Regions from separate parts of the Homo sapiens genome. Here region 2 is linked to region 1. The links come from fine-mapping of genetic effects on gene expression. Tissue or cell type: whole blood. Region 1 holds a variant in brackets; the other region holds the start of a gene. All regions are shown on one strand. Distances are from middle to middle.

Region 1 (2,684 bases):
ATGGTGGGATGTGCCTGTAGATCCAGCTACTTGGGAGGCTGAGGTGGGAAGATCACTTGAGACCAGCCTGGGAAACATAGTGAGACCTCATGTCGAAAAAAAAAAGTTCTTAACAGTGACATTTATAATAACCCCCCCAAAAGTGTAAGCAACACAAACACCATCTTGAACAGAAGAATGGATAAATATGTGGCATATCCATACAATGGAATATTGTTTGGCCATAAAAAGGAATGAGGTACTAGTATATGCTACAGCATGGATGAACCTTAAAAACATGATGCTAAGTGAAAGAAGCCAGTCACAGAGGACCACATATTGTGTGATTCCATTTATAGGAAATGTCCATAATAAAGAAATCTATAGGACAGAAAGTAGATTAGTGGTTGCCTATAGTAAATAGAGAATGAATGCTAATGGGTATAGGATTTCTTTATGGAGTGGTAAAAATAGCCTAAAACTGGTTGTGGTAATGGTTATACAACTCTGAATACACTTAAAAAAAAAACAAAAACCCACTGAAATGTACATTTTAAGTGGCTGAATTGTATCTTGTGTGGCATATCTCAATAAAAAAAGTTCTTTCTTAAGAAAAAAAAAAAACTAGGTGATTGTGTAATTTTCACTTATGCTTGAGGTTTCAGTTCTACAACCAACTTGAAACTGCCAGTATTCACGTTCCTGCCGTTCAACAAAACTTGAGACTTTTCAGGCCTGAGTGTGGAAGTCTTTTTAGGTTGAAGTTTTATGTTCGGCTTCTTTCCCTTAGCATAAAATATTCAAAGTTCATCCAAGTTGCAGCATGTATCAGAACTTCTAATCCATGAACAAGGTATGTCTTTCCATTTATTTAGATTTTAATTTCTTTCAGCAATGTTTTGTATTTTTCAGTGTATTAGACTTGTGCCTCCTTGGTTAAATTTATTCCTAAATAGTTTATTCTTTTTGATGCTGCTATAAATGGAATGTTTTAATTTACTGTTACTATATGTAAATGCAAGTGAGTTTTGTATACTGATCTTGCATCTTCAACTTTTCTGGATTTACTAGTTCCAACAGTTTTTATGTGAATTCTTAAAGGTTTTCTAGATATAAGCTGGATGTGATGGCCTACACCTGTAGTCCCAGCTACTCACGATGTTGGAAGTGGGAGGACCACTTGAGCCCAGAAGTCTGAACCTAGACTGGGCAACATAGTGAGACCCTATCTCTTAAAAAAATCTAGACATAAATCACATCATCTGCAAATAGAGATCATTTTACTTTTTTTCCTATCTGGATGCCTTTTCTTTCCTTTTTTCTTGTCTGTCTTAGCTAGAACTTGCAGAAAAATGTTGAATAGAAATGGTGATAAACGACATTCTTTCTTGTTCCTGATCTTAAGGGGAAAGCTTTCAGTCTTCACCATTAAGTATAATGTTAAAACTGTGGG[T/G]TTTTTTTGTTTTTTTTGTTTGTTTGTTTGTTTGTTTTGAGACAGAGTCTCACTCTGTCACCCAGGCTGGAGTGCAGTGGTGTGTTATCAGCTCACTGCAACCTCCACCTCGCAGGTTCAAGTCATTCTCATGTCTCAGCCTCCCAAGTAGCTGGCATTACAGGTGTGTGCCACTACACCTGGCTAGTTTTTGTATTAGTAAAGATGGAGTTTTGCATGTTGCCTAGGCTGGTCTTGAACTCCTGGCCTCAACTGATCACCCGCCTTGGCCTCCCAAAGTACTGGGATTACAGGCATAAGCCACTGTGCCCAGCCAACTGTGGGTTTTCATAGGTACCCTTTATTAGATTGAGAAAATTACCTTTTATTCCTAGTTTTTAAAATCATAAATGGCTGCTGGATTTTACCAAATGCTTTTACAGTGTCTAGTGAGATGATCATGCGGTTTTTTCCCCTTTATTCTAATAATATGGTATTACAGTATTAATTCATTTTCATATGTTGAACCAACCTTGCATTGCTGGGATAAAGAACACTTGGTCAGGGTGTATAATCCTCTTTAATATACTGCTGGATATTGTCATTATTTTGTCAAGGGCTTTTACAGTTTTCTTTTTTTGTAATATCTTTTTCCGTTTTTGGTATGAGAGTAATGATGGCCTCACAGAATGAGTTAGGAAGTAATATTTTCTTTGATTTTTGGAAGAGTTTGAGAAGTATTGCTATTAATTCCTCTTTTAAAATTTGGAAGAATTAACCAGTAAAGTAATCTGGTCCTGGGCTTCTCTTTGCTGGAAGTATTTTGATTACTAACTCAATCTCATTAGTTGTTATTTGTCTCTCCAGATGTTCTTGCTTCTTGAGTCCATTTTGATAGTTAATGTTTCTAGGAATTTGTCCATATCATCTAAGTTATCCAATTTTTGGCATTCATTGTTCACAGTATTCCATTTTAATCCTTTTTATTTCTTAAGGTCATTAGTAACGTCCCTTTATTCCTGATTTTGGTAACTTTAGTCTTCGTTTTCTTTTTATCTATCTACTTAGAGGTTTGTCAATTTGTTTATCTTTTCAAAGAACCCATTTTTTTTTCATTGATCTTCTCTATTGTTTTTCTATTTTCTATTTTATTTATTTTGGCTCTAATCTTTATTTCCTTCCTTCTGCTTATTTTGGGTTTAGCTTATCTTTTTTCTACTTCCTTTTTTTTTAAATTATACTTTAAGTTTTAGGGTACATGTGCACAAGGTGC
Region 2 (2,684 bases), 100 kb after region 1:
CTAACCTCAGGTGATCCACCCGCCTCGGCCTCCCAAACTACTGTGATTACAGGCGTGAGCCAGGGAGCTCGGCCTTGTTATATCTGGTTTTTGTTTTTTTGAGACGGAGCCTCGCTCTGTAGCCCAGGCTGGGGTACAGTGGCGCGAACTCGGCTCACTGCAACCTCCGCCTCCCGGGTTCAAGCGATTCTCCTGCCTCACCCTCCTGAGTAGCTGGGATTACAGGCGCGCGCTTTTTGTATTTTTAGTAGAGACAGGATTTCACCATGTTGGTCAGGCTGGTCTTGAACTCCTGACTTCAGGTGATCCGCCCGCCCCGGCCTCCCAAAGTGCTGGGATTACAGGCATGAGGCACCGCGCCTGGCCTGGTTTTTAATTACGAAGAAAAAATTACTATAGTCCCTTTGGTATCACCTACATTGGCAAAATTGCAGTCCCCCTCCACTCCCTGAAGCCACCAGAAATGACTGCTGTTGTCTACAAAGCCTACAGCTCTGATTTCATCTCAAGATGTGTCCTACTGGGTGACAGCAAATGCCATTTTTTAAAGGCTTGTATCTGTTATAAGCTTGGGAAATATTATCATGGCTTAAGAGGCTCTTTTGACAAAAGAAAACACTGTTCCCTGAAATCACCTGGGCTGTTCACGGGAATCTTTTCCTCGCCCTTCTGGTACTTGGACAAATGATCAAGGATATCAACAAATCAAGGTTCCCCGCATTTGAATGATCACAGAATTTTTGCGTGTTCTGTAAATGGGCTAAAACTACTGGAAACTGATTTCTTTTCGTCATCTCCAGGGCAGCTTGCCCAACGTGCCGCGACTATGATGTCTTAGACTTAACTACTTAAGGTAATACAATTACCAAATTCCTGGAAACGCAAAATTTCCTCAGACAGGTACCGGATTATTCACATCCAACCTGATGCAATTAACCACGTCTCAAGAAAAAAGGACGTTCCGTCCGCCTCGGGCGCCGGCCACAGCAGAAGCAGCACCGGCAGCAGGCCCGGGGTCCGCCGCCTGTGGCCCCTGCTCCTCCGCTCTGCGCCCTCGGGGCCACTGAACAACGCTGTCCCCGCCCCAGGCAAGGGACCCGGGCGATGGGGCGGCAGCCCCAGCCTCTCCCGGAGCGGCGGAAAGGCAAGCACGAGGGTCGCACCCGGCCTGTCTGCACACAGTCAAGCCGCAAGCGGGGTCCCAGAACCAGCTGAACCCCAACACCAACGGACGAAGGCCAGTGGGTCTCGGCGGCGAAGCCTGCGGGTTGTTCCAGAAGCCCCGAAGCCCAGAACGAGGACGGCGCGGGAAGGGAAAGGCGCAGGCGCGGGACACACTGGAGGGGCCCAGGAGCAGAGACGGCGCAGGCGCTGGGCCTGCCGGGGTCTGCGGGGACGCCCGGGCGCGGCAGCGCGGGCGGCGCTGAGGCGATAAACCAACCCGCCAGCGAACACTGCGGGAACCCGGCTGCTGCTCTTACCGCGCTGCACCGCATCGCTCCCTCGCAATCTCCTGGTTTGGGCTGGGCGGTGAGCTCACCCGGTGGCTCAGCCGAGACCCGTTGAGTCCGGCCTCAGGAAAGCAGCCTACCCCGCAGCGCCGCTTGCCGGGCCGCCCGGCCTCCCTCGCGGGCCCCGCCCTTGGCCAGCCCCTTCGCGCCCAGCAGGGCTGCGGCCGTCTGCGCAGGCGTCGTGGAGGCCCCGCCTACATTCCTTCACTGCGCAGGCGCCGCCGTCCCCCACCACCACCCCCTCCCCTTCCCCCATCTCCGGCTCGCGTCCGTCTCGGCACTGGGTCGCGCAGCCGCTCTGCCACTTGGCCGGTCAAGAAAGTAGCCGGCCAGCCGGTGCGCATGCCTCAGGTCTTGGGCTGGAGCCGGGCAAGGCGGGTCCCTTCAGAGGCCCCACTGGGCCCAGCGGAATGATGCTCAGAGTCCGCTAGTCCCAAAAGTTCTCCTCAGCGTGTTTACCGTGTGCCAAGGACTGTGCTATGCATGAGCCAGACAGCAGTGAGGAAAACACAAAGCCCTGTCCTCCTGGCACTCCCGGTACATAAGGGAACAGACAAAAAGAATAAGCGAGCAACATATATGTATATATATATGTATATACATATATATATACGTATATATATATACGTATATATATATGTATATATATACATATATATATACGTATATATATATGTATATATATGTGTATATATATACATATATATATGTATATATATATATATATATATATAAAATATTAAAGAAATTCTGGGGGAGTTCGAGTTCCATCGGCCCCCATCCGGGCCACCCTGCCACCTTAGCGGCTGCTCCTCCCCAGAATGCTGATGCCTAAGAAAAACCGGATTGCCATTTATGAACTCCTTTTTAAAGAGGAAGTCACGGTGGTCAAGAAGGATGTCCACATGCCTAAGCACCTGGAGTTGGCAGACAAGAATGTGCCCGGCCGGGCGCGGTGGCTTAGGCCTGTAATCCCAGCACTTTGGGAGGCCGAGGCGGGCGGATCACGAGGTCAGGAGTTCAAGACCAGCCTGGCCAAGATGGTGAAACCCGTGTCTACTAAAAATACAAAAATATTAGCCAGGCGCGGTGGCAGACACCTGTAATCCCAGCTAGTCGGGAGGCCAAGGCAGGAGAATTGCTTGAACCCAGGGGGCGGAGGTTGCAGTGAGC

What was found. PIP is the estimated chance that this variant, and not a neighbour inherited with it, causes the effect.
Region 2: it holds the start of SPECC1L, and the variant in region 1 is fine-mapped to the expression of SPECC1L in whole blood (TOPMed, PIP above 0.99).

The regions. Positions count from the first base shown.
Region 1 is chr22:24,374,736-24,377,419 of GRCh38, reverse strand. All of the region lies in intron 14 of SPECC1L (sperm antigen with calponin homology and coiled-coil domains 1 like), which reads right to left. The region is part of intron 15 of SPECC1L-ADORA2A (SPECC1L-ADORA2A readthrough (NMD candidate)); the gene reads right to left. Among named protein-coding and RNA genes, the nearest start is that of ADORA2A, 52 kb to the left of the region's middle. The variant T/G (reference allele first, on the strand shown) is at 1,433.
Region 2 is chr22:24,269,781-24,272,464 of GRCh38, reverse strand. It overlaps SPECC1L (sperm antigen with calponin homology and coiled-coil domains 1 like), which reads right to left and starts at 1,634. Exons shown (of 17, transcript NM_015330.6): 1 at 1,482-1,634. SPECC1L-ADORA2A (SPECC1L-ADORA2A readthrough (NMD candidate)) reads right to left here and starts at 1,648. Exons shown (of 20, transcript NR_103546.1): 1 at 1,482-1,648. It also overlaps the pseudogene RPS10P29. RefSeq lists an enhancer at 1,176-1,255 and a silencer at 1,316-1,845.